Regions from separate parts of the Homo sapiens genome. Here region 2 is linked to region 1. Evidence: fine-mapped expression QTL. Tissue or cell type: gastroesophageal junction. Region 1 holds a variant in brackets; the other region holds the start of a gene. All regions are shown on one strand. Distances are between the middles of the regions.

Evidence for each region. PIP is the estimated chance that this variant, and not a neighbour inherited with it, causes the effect.
Region 2: PHAF1 starts here. The variant in region 1 is fine-mapped to the expression of PHAF1 in gastroesophageal junction (GTEx, PIP 0.98). The same link has a PIP of 0.9 or more in monocytes and monocytes after interferon gamma.

What each region holds. Positions count from the first base shown.
Region 1 is chr16:67,144,411-67,152,501 of GRCh38, reverse strand. It overlaps PHAF1 (phagophore assembly factor 1), which reads right to left. Exons shown (of 16, transcript NM_025187.5): 12 at 7,625-7,668; 13 at 7,083-7,126; 14 at 6,874-6,932; 15 at 6,152-6,224; 16 at 3,958-5,457. The coding sequence ends at 5,371. B3GNT9 (UDP-GlcNAc:betaGal beta-1,3-N-acetylglucosaminyltransferase 9) reads left to right here and starts at 1,504. Exons shown (of 2, transcript NM_033309.3): 1 at 1,504-1,637; 2 at 1,831-4,398. The coding sequence starts at 2,017. The coding sequence ends at 3,225. RefSeq lists silencers at 1,549-1,708, 1,719-2,148. The variant T/C (reference allele first, on the strand shown) is at 4,406.
Region 2 is chr16:67,105,326-67,113,416 of GRCh38, reverse strand. It overlaps PHAF1 (phagophore assembly factor 1), which reads right to left and starts at 3,476. Exons shown (of 16, transcript NM_025187.5): 1 at 3,178-3,476. The coding sequence starts at 3,241. RefSeq lists a silencer at 3,341-3,600 and enhancers at 3,160-3,901, 3,902-4,644.

The sequences.
Region 1 (8,091 bases):
TCCATGTTGGCCAGGCTGGTCTCAAACTCCTGGCCTCAAGTGATCCACCTGCCTTGGCCTCCCAAAGTGTTGGGATTACAGGAGTAAGCCACCACGACTGGCCTTTTTTTTTTTTTGAGACAGTCTCGCTCTGTTGCCCAGGATGGAGTGCAGTGGTGTGTTCTTGGCTCACTGCAACCTCCACCTTCCAGGTTCAAGCAATTCTCCTGCCTCAGCCCTCTAAGTAGCTGGGATTACAGGTGCCCACCACCATGTCTAGCTAATTTTTGTATTTTTAGTAGAGATGGGGGTTTCACCACGTTGGCCAGGCTGGTCTTGACTTCCTGACCTCAAGTGATCCACTCACCTCAGCCTCCCAAAGTGTTGAGGTTACAGGCATAAGCCACCACACCCAGCCAGAGAGGTGGCTTTTTAAGATTGAACATTGGTGGGAAGAAGCCGTCAGGAGCAGATATAGCCCTTGGACAGAGGATGGGGCTGGGTTCTTAAGAGACCAGTAGAGGCTGTCTATTCCAGGCTCCACCACATGGGCTGGGACCAAGAAAGAGAGAGCTGGCAGCTGAGCTGCGCAAGGACTTAGCTCTCCATTGCAGAGCACCTCTGTCCACCTGCATCCCAGAGCAATCCTTTAGCCAAGGCCTCCGCCAGGAGTCTTCCCAAGCTGTCCCCATCCTTGCCAGCCCTGTCTGACCTGCAGCTGCACAGGCCTGATCATTTCTACCTGCAGTAGGCTATGCTGGGGACCAGGGGACTCAGAACTGCACCTGGCTTGGGCTCAGGTCCATTAGCCCCCGGGGAGACAGGCTGAAGTGCTTGCCTGTGAAATTAAAGCAGACTGGGTTGGCCCCCTGTTCTGTATCCCAGTGGATGAATGAGCGGGGCAAGGACAGATAAAATAATCCTGGCCTGAATTTCAGAAGACCTGGGGGCAGAGCTTTCTGGCCTTTGGATCCTGGGCAAGTCACTTAACTCCCCGAAGAGCCCCCCAGTGTCCCCATCTGGGCATGAATGAGAGCTGCTGGCAGAGTTGCCCTGAGGATTGGGTGGGCTGCCTTGTTTGTCCCGTGCGTGTGTTTACTGGGGGTGGGGAGCATGGCAGAACCAGGAGTAAGAAGACAGCCATGTGTCTCGGGGGCAGCGTATGCACCCTGCCTGATGGAATCAGGGCTGCTGAGGAGAGGCCCGCCCGGGATGGTGGCCAGGTTCATGCGCATTTGGAACCGGCCTGCTCAGGGGCTCCTAGCAGCCCAGGCTCCGCCCCACTCCAGAGACGCGGGAGTGGGGAGTGGATAGTTGGGGGAGCTAACCAGGGGAGTTGATGCTTCTTCCCAATCCCCAGAAAGGCGAATTTGGGGTGTGAGCACCCAGACCAGCCCTTCCCAGAGGGACTGAGAGTGAGGAGGCTCCCTCTCAGGGATTAGTCCCCACTCTGAGGCCGGAGTGCTCCTGGCGCCGGGGCGGAGCTGAGCTCCAGAAGTCTGGGCGCGCACAGCTGGAGGGTCACGTGGCACGGCACCGGTCCCCCTTCCTGCCAACGCTGCATTTGGCTCGGGCCCGGTCCATGGCGGCCCCTCGGACCCTGCGCTGAGCCCCGGAGGCCAGGGCGTCCGGGGCTGCGCCACTTCCGAGGGCCGAGCGTGAGTGTCGGGACCCCAGGGCCCGACATTGAGGGGATGGCAGGGTGGAAGGGATTCGGCCTCAGCGCGAGGGAGGCGGGCGGGGGAGGGGCCGAGGCTCCCAGTCTCCCTGCCCGGCCCTGGGTCGCAGTCCTGGGCCGGAGCTGAGGCCGCGGGGGAGTTGGCTACATGGGTGAACTTCTTGTCCCTTCAGGCTGCCGGTCCCGGCGGTGCGACACGGCCGGGAGGAGGAGAACAACGCAAGGGGCTCAACCGTCGGTCGCTGGAGCCCCCCCCGGGGCGTGGCCTCCCGCCCCCTCAGCTGGGGAGGGCGGGGCTCGCTGCCCCCTGCTGCCGACTGCGACCCTTACAGGGGAGGGAGGGCGCAGGCCGCGCGGAGATGAGGAGGAGGCTGCGCCTACGCAGGGACGCATTGCTCACGCTGCTCCTTGGCGCCTCCCTGGGCCTCTTACTCTATGCGCAGCGCGACGGCGCGGCCCCGACGGCGAGCGCGCCGCGAGGGCGAGGGAGGGCGGCACCGAGGCCCACCCCCGGACCCCGCGCGTTCCAGTTACCCGACGCGGGTGCAGCCCCGCCGGCCTACGAAGGGGACACACCGGCGCCGCCCACGCCTACGGGACCCTTTGACTTCGCCCGCTATTTGCGCGCCAAGGACCAGCGGCGGTTTCCACTGCTCATTAACCAGCCGCACAAGTGCCGCGGCGACGGCGCACCCGGTGGCCGCCCGGACCTGCTTATTGCTGTCAAGTCGGTGGCAGAGGACTTCGAGCGGCGCCAAGCCGTGCGCCAGACGTGGGGCGCGGAGGGTCGCGTGCAGGGGGCGCTGGTGCGCCGCGTGTTCTTGCTGGGCGTGCCCAGGGGCGCAGGCTCGGGCGGGGCCGACGAAGTTGGGGAGGGCGCGCGAACCCACTGGCGCGCCCTGCTGCGGGCCGAGAGCCTTGCGTATGCGGACATCCTGCTCTGGGCCTTCGACGACACCTTTTTTAACCTAACGCTCAAGGAGATCCACTTTCTAGCCTGGGCCTCAGCTTTCTGCCCCGACGTGCGCTTCGTTTTTAAGGGCGACGCAGATGTGTTCGTGAACGTGGGAAATCTCCTGGAGTTCCTGGCGCCGCGGGACCCGGCGCAAGACCTGCTTGCTGGTGACGTAATTGTGCATGCGCGGCCCATCCGCACGCGGGCTAGCAAGTACTACATCCCCGAGGCCGTGTACGGCCTGCCCGCCTATCCGGCCTACGCGGGCGGCGGTGGCTTTGTGCTTTCCGGGGCCACGCTGCACCGCCTGGCTGGCGCCTGTGCGCAGGTCGAGCTCTTCCCCATCGACGACGTCTTTCTGGGCATGTGTCTGCAGCGCCTGCGGCTCACGCCCGAGCCTCACCCTGCCTTCCGCACCTTTGGCATCCCCCAGCCTTCAGCCGCGCCGCATTTGAGCACCTTCGACCCCTGCTTTTACCGTGAGCTGGTTGTAGTGCACGGGCTCTCGGCCGCTGACATCTGGCTTATGTGGCGCCTGCTGCACGGGCCGCATGGGCCAGCCTGTGCGCATCCACAGCCTGTCGCTGCAGGCCCCTTCCAATGGGACTCCTAGCTCCCCACTACAGCCCCAAGCTCCTAACTCAGACCCAGAATGGAGCCGGTTTCCCAGATTATTGCCGTGTATGTGGTTCTTCCCTGATCACCAGGTGCCTGTCTCCACAGGATCCCAGGGGATGGGGGTTAAGCTTGGCTCCTGGCGGTCCACCCTGCTGGAACCAGTTGAAACCCGTGTAATGGTGACCCTTTGAGCGAGCCAAGGCTGGGTGGTAGATGACCATCTCTTGTCCAACAGGTCCCAGAGCAGTGGATATGTCTGGTCCTCCTAGTAGCACAGAGGTGTGTTCTGGTGTGGTGGCAGGGACTTAGGGAATCCTACCACTCTGCTGGATTTGGAACCCCCTAGGCTGACGCGGACGTATGCAGAGGCTCTCAAGGCCAGGCCCCACAGGGAGGTGGAGGGGCTCCGGCCGCCACAGCCTGAATTCATGAACCTGGCAGGCACTTTGCCATAGCTCATCTGAAAACAGATATTATGCTTCCCACAACCTCTCCTGGGCCCAGGTGTGGCTGAGCACCAGGGATGGAGCCACACATAAGGGACAAATGAGTGCACGGTCCTACCTAGTCTTTCCTCACCTCCTGAACTCACACAACAATGCCAGTCTCCCACTGGAGGCTGTATCCCCTCAGAGGAGCCAAGGAATGTCTTCCCCTGAGATGCCACCACTATTAATTTCCCCATATGCTTCAACCACCCCCTTGCTCAAAAAACCAATACCCACACTTACCTTAATACAAACATCCCAGCAACAGCACATGGCAGGCCATTGCTGAGGGCACAGGTGCTTTATTGGAGAGGGGATGTGGGCAGGGGATAAGGAAGGTTCCCCCATTCCAGGAGGATGGGAACAGTCCTGGCTGCCCCTGACAGTGGGGATATGCAAGGGGCTCTGGCCAGGCCACAGTCCAAATGGGAAGACACCAGTCAGTCACAAAAGTCGGGAGCGCCACACAAACCTGGCTATAAGGCCCAGGAACCATATAGGAGCCTGAGACAGGTCCCCTGCACATTCATCATTAAACTATACAGGATGAGGCTGTACATGAGTTAATTACAAAAGAGTCATATTTACAAAAATCTGTACACACATTTGAAAAACTCACAAAATTGTCATCTATGTATCACAAGTTGCTAGACCAAAATATTAAAAATGGGATAAAATTATACATTT[T/C]TCTTCTCAGTTCTTTTCAAAAGGATTAATATTTTTAAAGCACATATATGCTACTTTCCATTAGCAAGACCCATGAAGGGACTGAGCAGCCCAGCCTTCCTTGAGCCCCCAGAGGCTTTGAGCCATGAAATGGCCCAGCCAGGGGCCAGTGCCCAGGGTTGGGGCAGAGAGCCAGCCCACAGTGCAGAACAGAATGCTGAAACACAACAAAAGTAGGAAGATGTCTTTGGCTAAAACTTTGGCATTAAATAAAAGAGGCAAACAGGATGGAAACATGCAGCCCTGCCAGCCAGGATGGGGCAGAGCAGGGGCACAGGCAATCTTGAAAGCTGACTCCAACAGGGGTGAGAACCAGGCCTGGGCATGTACCTGGATGGTAGAAAGCTGTGTTTCAACCAGTTTGGTGTGCCCAGGCAGGGAGCGCGTGCAAGAAAGGAACAGGGAAGGGCAGGTGGGCCACCCTGGCCACAGCCAGCTCATCAAGTAACTAAAGTGGATGTAGTGCAAATGTCGCAACCAAGTACTATGGACACGCTACCTGCTTGCCTTAAGGGTCATGTGGCAATGTGGAGCCAAAGGCAGGACCTTGTCCTTATCCTGGGTGCCTGTGTCCTCAGTCACAGAAAGAGCCCCAAGTCTTCCCAATGTGCATGGGACAAGGGTTGACCTCTCCTGCCTCCTTGTTAGTTGAGAGCTCCTGGGTCCAGGAATCAAGGCTCAAACTTTGTGCTTCTCTTTGCAGTCTGTGTCCCCTGCTGGCACCAGCAGGCCAAAGATGGACAGAAGAATATCTGGGCCACTCAGCCCATGGCAGAGCACCCAGCCTGAGCCCAACCTCAGAACATCACAACAGCCCTTCAGCACTGGCCAGGTGTCCAAGAAAACCCACAGGGTGGTACAGAGGCCCACTGAGCAGGATGTGATGCACAGTTCCACGGGACAGAGGGGCATGGGTGGTGGTGTCCCTAGGGGAGTTCCGCTGTTCTCAGGTGGCTACCAGGCCTGGGGGGGCCATACAGGGTCACCGAGGCAATGTGGTTGTTCTGCATGACCTGGTGTGAGAAGAGGACAGTGGGTCAAGGGGGAGAGGTAAAGGGATGTAGGCAGATCCTGTGCATGAGGGCTGGAGGTTGTGTGACATACCTGCACCTAATGGCTGGGTTTCCCGACTCCTCAACCTCCCCTGGTTCATGCTAAAGGCCCCCCTCTGCCTGAGATCTGCCTGTTTCTCAATGGTTACACACAGCCTTTACCATGGCCACGTGTCCAGTCCTTCTGGAACTGTTAAGTGTCTGCTGGAGATACTGCATCCACAGGGAAAACAAGGGCAGCTTGCTGTTCTCCCAAGTCAGCAGGGCCTCCAGAGCCACTCACTCCCCTACAATGCATTTGTTCACATGCCACTGGAGGGCCCCCAACACCCTCTGCTGGGCCCCACTTGCCCTGTGGTTCCCTTCCCTGCTATAATCATGTTGTCAGATAGAAACTTGGGATCCGTTACCTCCCATCTTGTTGGACACAGACCACTGCTTCGGCCTCTGTGACCCCAGATTTCTCAACATCATTTCTGAACCTTCATTGTTAAGTGTGGGGAGGCCAGGTATGCAGCAGACACGGTTGCTGAAGAAGGATGAATCTGCCCACTATGGCAGTGATGCCCTCCCCAATTTCCCTCCATCATTCACCTGGCCCTGCCATGACCAGCAACCCCCCAGGCAGTTTATTTCTAGGGCTTCCACAGCTTACCTCAAAGATCATTCGCTGAAGACCAAAGCAGAATGTGGAACCAAATGGGTTGGTGTTGTTTGGGGAGGAAGACCTGAGGCCAAAGAATTCAGAATTAGAGAGGCAGACAGAGGCCACGGCCTTAAAGCAAGGGATCCAGTCTTTTCTGGGGTATGGGATACTGGCCAGTAGTCTCTCATGGCTGTGAGTGTCTGTCTGTTTCCCACACAGGCCTGCAAGATCCTAGGGGTAGGGATGGTCTCACTCAACTCAGAATTATACATACAGAGCCCAACAGGACAAAAAAGTTACTGTGGAACTGGACTAGGGTGGCGAGGAGTCAAGAGGGCCCTCTTGAGTGAGAGAATCTCAGGCAGCATGGCAACCAGGAACGGGGCTGTGGACTTCAGCAGGCAGCAGCTCAAAGCTCAAAGGGAAAAAGAGCCCAGGCCAGCCAGCCAAGCCCTCCTTCCTTATTGAATAACTGAGGGTGAGAAGGCCCCCATACCTAGAGGTAGGCTTGGGAGAGGGGAGCTACCCCTGGGGACATTCTCTCTATCAAAGATGAACACACAGAACAGTTGACTCAGTCCTAATGTGCAGAGTGGGGCAGGAAGTATGCTTGTGGCAATATCAGAAACTTCTGTAATTTTTAAGCAACATCCACTGTGCCAGGCTTCCCTGGGCTTTCTGGGCTCTGAGGAGTCAGGTGGGGTGGCCGGGGACATCAAACTCCCACTCACCTGTGCAGGACAACAGGCTTCTCCACAGGGTGGCCCAGGAGCTCCTGGATGTTGTCCCACTGCAAGAGGGATAGAGGGGAGCAGGGGTTAGTAGGGACATGAACATGTCTGTGACCAATGGCTGGCCTAGAGGACACAGCCCCATACTGCCTGCAGGCTCATGTCCACCTCATTCTCAGGCTATGCCAGGTAGGAAGATAGGTGCTCACCTTGCTGTAGGTCGTGCATGTTTCTGTCTGACCATCTGCGTTTTCTGAAAAGAGAAGACAGTGGGGCAGATTTGTAGCTGGCCCAGCCTACCTGTGGCCCCAGCCCTAGGTAGGAACCAGACCTGGTGTCCCTTTGCACTGGGGTTGGAGTACATGGGGAGGATTAACAGGCTGTTTTGGAGTTCCAGGGTGGAAGAGGATGGAGGGGTGAAGGGAGGTCAGTCAGGTGTGAGCAACAACAATTGGCAGTGGGTGGCAGGCAACAAGGATGGGCTGGGGCCCCCTGGATGATCATCTGTAGATAAGAAACTCTCCCCTCCAGAGGCCGGCAATCCCACAGTCATAGGAAGAGGCCTCAAGGGCCTCTAGGAGACTCAGACCAAGAACACTGCAGCCCCCAGAACAATGAGCCCACCCCAGAGGAACTGAGGCCATGGGCAGAAGCTCCACACATCCAACCACTGCTTCGATCTTTCTCCCTTTTCATAGTGGAAAACAGACTCTAAAACCCCTCCCTTACCCTGAGAGCTTTCACTACTCACCTTTCTTTATGGCTAGTGGGATCTTGAACTCACAGCGATGATAACTAGAGAGAAGGCAAATGGGTAAAGGCTGGGCCTCCTAGAAGGCCTGGCCACTCCCATATTCCAACCCCACACCCCAGGAGAAACAGAACCAAACACACCTGCCCAAAGCCCTGGCTCTGAGTGCCTGACAGTGTTCACTGGGGGAGGCCAGATTTAGGCACGGAAGTCGAACAGAAAAGATCTTGGCCCTGGGTTCTGGAGAGCCTATTACCTTGGATAAGACATCAAGCTTTCTGAACTTATTTCCCTATTTGTAAAATGGGTTCAAACAGAGAGATGTAAGGCATTGGACCCTGTGCCAGGAACACAGCAAGCACTCAGGAAATTCACTTCCCATGAAACAGCAAGAATTCAGGTGTAGATAAATTAGTGAACACCCAAAGCCAAAAGCTCTTTCCTGGGGTTTTCAGCCCAAAACTCAC
Region 2 (8,091 bases), 39 kb after region 1:
TGCACTGCCTTTACTCCACTGCTGGTCAAATCATCAGTGACATTCATATTCACAGAGATTCTGCTTGGCCTAGGTTTTCCTTTCCCTGTGTTGCTCGCATTTCCCTAATCATCCAACATTATACAACCAGGAAGGCAGCCAAGGAGCTGCCAGGATGCAGCTTCCCATTGTGATGCCAGGCAGATAATTGCATCTGCATTTGCACAGATTCCAATAAGAAACCTGGTGACAAAGTTGAGTCCACTTTCAGAAGGAAAGAGCAGTGGCATGCAGGATATGCCTGTTTGGCGACTTTTGTTTATCATCTCTCTCTCTGAGCCTGTCCCTCACCTGGCAAAAAGAGATAACAACACCTATCTTACAAGCCTGTGGTGGCAAGAGGTAAGTTCTTCCTGGTTCACTAGCCTAGGCATGTAATTCTAAAGCAGATTCCCTTCCGAGACCTATCCCTACCTAACAGCCCCAAATGTAGTTTGGACGTGTTCAGGGTGGGGGAGGAGATTGACAGAGGTGGAAAATGACTTTCCATTTTTAAAGTCTGATAAAGTTAAATTAACACCATCTCTCAGGCAGACACCATGTAAAAATGAATTTTAAGACCCAAGGGAATCATGAAGCCTCTGGGCCAGTCTATGAGCTTCCCCCTAAAATTCAATTCTTGACCCAATATACAGAAATGCCCTTCTCACTGTTTTTGGTTGCTATTTAGACAGTTTGTAAGAACTGTGTAAACCCTTGATTCCTGGGAAACTAGCAGAGCTAGGAGTCAGGGTTAGGGTATCAAAACAACAGCTGAGAGAAGCCTTGCTCTCTCACTCAGTTTTCTGGAAATCCTCATCTCAATTAATATCCTAGTAACTACTTTTTTTTTTTGTCTCCTTGAGACAGGGTCTCTCTCTGTCACCCAGGATCACGCCCAGTGGTGTGATCATGACCCACGGCAGCCTTGACCTCCCAGCCTCAAGTGATCCTTCCATCTCAGCCTCCCGAGTAGTTAAGACTACAGGCCTGGCTTTTTTTTTTTTTTTTTTTTTTGGTAGAAACGAGGTCTCACTATGTTGCCTAGGCTGGTCTTGAACTCCTGGCTTCAAGCTATCCTCCTGTCTCAGCTTCCCAAAGTGTTGGGATTACAGCCATGAGTTACTGCACCCAGTCCCTACCACTGCTTTTGACCAAGGGACTCTGAATACTTGTACCACCAAGAGATCCACAACCTAGTCACACTACTAAGCACAGTTTGAAGCTATGGTTGTGGTTTTTATCCAGCCGTGGGAGGATCTTGCTTGGGTAGAAGCTGTCAAGGAGAGGGGAGGAAAGGAGTTAACCAGAAGCCAAACAGCATTAGCATGGTATCACCAGCCTTCCAACCAAGCTCTTAGTGCTTCACGAGAGAATGGAGCATTTTGTACCAGCTAATATTTTGGAAAGAACTCTGCAGGAGTGGTGTTAAGTTATGAAAGAATTTGGCCAACTCCCCTAAATTAAACCGGCTTTTATGGTTGGGCATGGTGGCTCACACCTGTAATCCTAGCACTTTGGGAGGCCAAGGCGGATCACTTGAAGTCAGGAGTTCGAGACCAGCCTAGCCAACATGGCGAAACCCAATCTCTACTAAAAATACAAAAATTAGCCGGGTGTGGTGGCAGACGCCTGTAATCCCAGCTACTAGTAGGGAGGCTGAGGCAAGAGAATTGCTTGAACCCGGGAGGCAGAGGTTGCAGTGAGCCGATATTGTGCCACTGCACTCCAACCTGGGCAACAGAGTGACTCTGTCTTAAAACAAAACACCAACAACAAAAACTAGCTCTTACAACACACAGGACATATGTAGCCACTAAGCATCAGCAGGGCCTTACCAGCAATCTGTACCACCTGGTTTCTCCAACACACTGTCTCCACAGACATAAGTCTTCCAGAGTCAAGGATAATTTATAATCCAATGGAGCAGCTGATTTAGTCCAGTAGCTCACACTAGAGTGACTAAAGTTCAGGCCTGCACAAACAAACAGCACCAACACCTACCCCACCCCCTTTTCTTAGTGCTGGGACATCAAAGTAAACACACAGGGGTTACTGAATGCAAACATCCTTGTACACATAAAAGTAGTGATGCTGGAAATGGAGAGGGTGAAGGGAGAAGGCTGGGCCAGCAAACCCCAAAACGACCAAACTGCATTTTTTAGAAACTAAATGTTACTTCTCCCTAACTCCTATTTCATCCAACCTTCACCTGTCACAACTGAGGTCTGGGTTTAGGATTACAGCATCCGATACAGACTATATTTCAAAAGAGAGAGAAGCGGGGCCGGGTGCAGTGGCTCACGCCTGTAATCCCAGCACTTTGGGAGGCCGAGGTGGGCGGATCACGAGGTCAGGAATTCGAAACCAGCCAGCCTGGTCAACATGGTGAAACCTCGTCTCTACTAAAAATACAAAAATTAGCCGGGTGTGGTGGCGCGTGCCTGTAATCCTAGCTACTGGGGAGGCTGAGGCAGGAGAATCGCTTAAACCCACGAGGCGTTAAGTTGCAGTGAGCCAAGATCACGCAACAGCACTCCAGCCTGGGCGACAGAGCGAGACTTCGTCTCAAAAAAAAAGAAAAAAAAGAGAGAAGCAAGTCAGCTGTTCCTTTAATACACACAAACTCAACTCCCTTGACCAGAGCCCCAACATCTGATCATGGGTTCCAAGCCTAGGTTTCCCCTCCTAAAAAGGGGAAGGAAGCCACAGCCCAGAAAAGCAGTGGGAGACAGACCACAGGCCACAGTGATGATCAGAGGGGTCAGCCACTTCTCAGCCATTATTTAGTCTGTAAAATGGAAATGGGAATAACAACAGTACCTATCCTCAGGTGCCGGCGAGGGGTACTAGAGAGAATTACGTCCAAAAAGAGCAGGGCCGGGCATTAGGCATTTGGGGAGAGCAAGCTATTATTGTCTTTACTACTACTGTTCCACCGTCCCAGAAGAGACCCTGCTGAGACCCGAGACGAGCAACTGACAGGCAAATCGGGCCAGTTGGAGCGGGTATCTAGTGCCTGGAGCCCAGCGAGCCGAGAGGACGAAAGAGGTGAGGAGCTGCGGGCGCAGGGGCGTGAGAGACTGAGAACAGGTGGGAAGAGCCCAGGAGAAAGCAAGGATCAGCGAATGGGGTCCTGACAGAGGACCCCAAACTCACCCAGCGTGAATTCCCATTGCTCGTTCCCCAGAGAGCGTTCGGGCACTACCTCCAGGTCCAGCATTGGTTCGGCTCGCCTGGCCCGGGCGGCCTCCCTGCGGCAGCGCAGAAGGGACCCGAGCTAAGGAGACAAAGCAGCGGCTGACAGGCCGCCCCCGCCGGCCCGCCACAGCCCCGCTTTCCACCTCCTCCCCGGCGGCAGCGGCAGCAGCACCGGCCCAACACCACACCTCACCTCACTTCACCTCACCTGCAGCAGCCGCGGCAGCGGGGGCAACGACGGCGGCGGGCGCGACTGCAGTAAAAGTGGCGTGCCGGGCCGTAAAGCGCGGGGAGGGCCGGGCGAAGGCGGGAGTGCCAGCGCGAGGGAGGAGCCTGGGGCGGAGCCGCGCACGCGCAAACTGCGGGTCCCGCCGCCGTCTCTGCGGAGGCTGAGTCGGGCAGGGCTGTAACGTTGGGAACTGTTCGGGCTCTAGGAGCAAGGAGCCCAGTACTTCGTGAGCCCCTACATCTGTGCACCACAGCACACACACTTCACATATCTACATAAAGAAGGGTTCACCACACAACACACACGTCACACAGCTGCACAAGACCCGTCTGCTGTCTACACACACGTCCCACTCACGTTCACTGGTAGCAGAAGGCAAGTACAGAGGGCACGCTGAGGCCCAGCAGGAGGGAGGACGCGGAGTCCCTAAGCCTCACGGCCCCCACCGTCTCCGTTGGGGCCGGAGGTGACGCTGGCCGCAGCAGCTTTTAGTTGTTCAGGAATGACGGCCCCACCCAGTCGCCCCTGGGGCAAGGGTCGAACCGTAAGCGAGTGAGGACTGTGGGCGTTAGGGGTCGGAATTGGTTCGGGGAGAGGACTGGGTAGAAGAGGAAGGGGCCAGGCCAGGCCTCCCTGCTGACCACATCCAAATGTGCGCAGTCCCCCGGGACCAGGATCCGAAGCCGCCGGCAGCAGCGTGGACCAAAGCTGTGGGGGTCTTGATCAACCCCTTGGCGCTTTCTGTGCCACAGTTTTCCTAATCTGCAAGGGACAGGAAGGTTCCTCTAGCAGGTTCAGCCTGAGGTTTTGGCCCGTGCCCCGGGACACCCTGAAACTAAAGGACAGCCGAGGCCTATGCTGATGCCAAGCCTTCACGGAGGCAGTCTCTGGGTTCTCACAACCAACCTGAGATGCGAGATTATACCGACTTTACATAGGCGAATACATGAGGCCCAGAGATGTTAAAGACCCAAGGCTCCTTGGTTCTAGGCGCAGAACCCAAGTCCTTTCCATTACATTGCCCCTGGAAGAAGGTTTTCAGTAGGGGAGAGAGTGGCATACTAAATTCTCAAACTGGCTTGATACTAGCGTTTCTTTGGAGGCTCTATCAAAATTTGAAGTCGCTGTTTGATTAAAATGAACTACATGGAGAAGGTTGTCCACTGCAGCATTGTATGCCAAAACAACAGAACTGGGTCACTGAGATGTCCAGTAGGGAAGTGGCTAAATAAACCGTGATATAGATAGATAGATAGATAGATGATAGATAGATAGATAGATAGATAGATAGATAGATAGATAGATAGAGATATGTTTTTAAAGGTGAATGCTGAGAGCAGTGCTCACAGCGGTAATACCAGCACTTTGGGAGGATGAGGTGGGAGGATCGGTTGAGCCCGGGAGTTGAGACCAGCCTGGGCAACATAGCAAGACCCAGTCTCTATTAAAAAAAAAAATTAGCTGGTGTCATGGCAGTAGGTTGGGCCAGGAGTCCTAGCTACTCAAGAGGCTGAGAGGTGGGAGGATAGCTTGAGGATAGCTGCAGTGAGCTGTGATTATTGAGCCCCGGGGCTCCAGCCTGGATGACAGAGCAAGATCCTGTCTCTAAATAAATAAATAAATAATAAAAAGTGAAGTAGGTCTCTATGTTGATGTGGAAGGAACTCCAAGAGAAAAAAGCCAGGTGCAGAAGTATGCATACCATGACCACCCACCACCCCCCTCCCCCGGCCTTTTTTTCTGTAAAAACAAAAATAAAAGAAACAGTGGCTGTACCAAAAAGAAAGAACATTTCTGGAAAAATAAAACATTGTCAATCATACCTAATAGAGTGGCAGAGGACAGGAATCAGGGGGTCATTATTCCTTATCATGACAAGCATTAAAGATATGTTTAGAAAAGCCTAGTTGGGCAGCTGGGCTAGATAGCTTGGGAAGGAAATCTGGGGAAAAATCTTAAGATTGGTGAGGAGCAATCTTAGTCAATTAAAAGTGTCTGGCTGGGCGCGGTGGCTCACGCCTGTAATCCCAGCACTTTGGGAGGCCGAGGCAGACAGATCACCTGAGGTCAGGAGTTTGAAACCACCCTGGCCAACATGGTGAAAACCCGTCTCTACTAAAAATAGAAAAAATAGCTAGGTGTGGTGGTGCATGCCTGCAGTCCCAGCTACTTGGGAGGCTGAGGCACGAGAATCACTTGAATCCAGGAGGTAGAGGTTGCAGTGAGCCAATTATCACCCCACTGCATGCCAGCCTGGGCAACAGAGCAAGACTCTCTCAAAACTTGGAGGGGACTTATTTCTGGAGGAGAAAGATGGGTGGGGCCTAAATTGGGGTGGGATAAGCCCAGTGGGGTTGTGGGATAAGCCCAGTGGGGTTGTACCAGAGGCAAGACAAAGAAGAAACCACATCATTCTGGATAACAAAGTGAAAAGGATTTCTAATTTGGGTAACCCCCAAACAGAAAGAACAAAGTTGTCGGGGAGCGCCCTAAGAAATTCCCTGTTGGAATAGTAGGCAGATTTCTGTGAACAATGTTAGTCAACAACAAAAGTTTATCTGGCCAGGTGTGGTAACTCATGCCTATAATCTCAGCACTTTGGGAGGCTGAAGTGGGAGGATTGCTTGAGGCCAGGAGCTTGAGACCAGCCTGGGCAATATAGCAAGACCCCGTACACACACACACACACACACACACACACACACACACACACACACACGCCAGATGTGGTGGCACATGCAGGTAGTCCCAGCTACCCAGGAGGCTCAGGTGGGAAGACCACTTAAGCCTGGGAGTTTTGTTGTTGTTGTTGTTGTTGCTTTTTGTTTTTGTTTTTGAGACGGAGTCTCGCACTCTCGCCCAGGCTGGGGTGCAGTGGCGCCGTGGCGCCATCTTGGCTCACTGCAAGCTCCGCCTCTCGGATTCACGCCATTCTCCTGCCTCAGCCTCTCGAGTAGCTGGGACTACAGGGGCCCGCCACCACGCCCGGCTAATTTTTTGTATTTTTAGTAGAGACGGGGCTTCACAGTGTTAGCCAGGATGGTCTTGATCTCCTGACCTTGTGATCTGCCCGCCTCGGCCTCCCAAAGTGTTGGGATTACAGGCGTGAGCCACCGCGCCCGGCCGAGCTTGGGAGTTTGAGGCTGCAGTGAGCTATGTACTGCACTCCAGTACAGCCTAGGCAACAAAAGAATGAGACTGTATCTCTAAAAAAATAAACAGAAGTTTATCTTTGCTCATTTAATGTTGATTCACCCAGGTTTTTATCCAAGGTGGGAATAACAGCTTTGGGATGGTGATATTAGGAGGCCTTGGCCCAGAGCCCAATACACACACACACAATAGAAGCAGAAGGTGCCTGGCAGGAGCAGGCCAACTCAGGAGAATGTCAGCTACAGCCATTCCCCCAAACTGAGGGTAGGGATGTTCAGAAATATGGAATTGGCTAATGAAAAGCATATTCAGGGAGGGCAAGTAGTCATGGTAGCAGTCAAAGCCAGACATGCAGGGACAGCTTCAGGTCAGAACATGGTGATTAAGCTCAGGGACTCAAAATTTGAATCCCAGTTCTGCCACTTAATAGCTTTGTGCCTTGACAAGTTAATTAGCCTCTCCATGCCTTAGTTTCTTCTGTAAAATCTGTAACAATCTCACAGATTTGTTAGGAGGTCTGTACTTGTGTGTCTGGCTTACAGGTAATTGCTTTGTGTATAACTAAAATTTTAAAACATCTAATAGTAACAGAATTGATGGAATCCACTGGCAGGATTTACAGATTGCATGTGGGAGATGAGAGAGACTGGGAGTCAAGAATAACGACATAGTTTTCCCAGCTTGGGTAGCTGGAAGGACGGTGATTGGAGGAACTGACATTGGCGTTTGGAAGGATGTCAATCCTTCTGGTAAAACTGTCACGTGATAACTTGGAAGGGAAGAAATGTAACAAGCTTGAAACATTACTTGAAGAACTTGGAAAACAATCTTAGTACCATGGTTATTTATTAATTGCATTTGCCAAGTTATTTTTTTTTCTTTTTTTTTTTTGAGACGGAGTCTCACTCTGTTGCCCAGGCTGGAGTGCAGTGGTGAGATCTCGGCTCACTGCAACCTCCGCCTCCCAGGTTCAAGCGATTCTCCTGCTTCAGCCTCCCCAGTAGCTAGGATTACAGGCACGTGCCACCATGCCCAGCTAATTTTTGTATTTTTAGTAGAGACGAGGTTTCACCATGTTGGCCAGGCTGGTCTTGAACTCCTGTCTTTAGGTGATCCACCTGCCTCAGCCTCCTAAAGTGCTGGGATTACAGGTGTGAGCCACCGCGCCCAGTTAGATTTTTTTTTTTAAAGCCAGTTTGAAAGCAGGAATGACAGGTAATGTGTACAGCAAATGAGGGATGGGGCTAAAAGTCATGGAAAATGGTGGAGCAGGGAACCCATCCTAATAGGCCTTACAAAGAACACTCCCCTCTGTTAGGGCAGAGGGCCCTCAAATGGTTTCCAGTGTCATTTCATAATTGTTACTGACCGGTGACTTCATTCTTCCCCTTTCTGAAGGCAAGTGCTTCCTGCAATTTTTCTGTCCCTGTCCCACCACTGTGTACTGGGTGCGTAGATCCTGGTCTCCACACACAATTTTAGCTCAATTG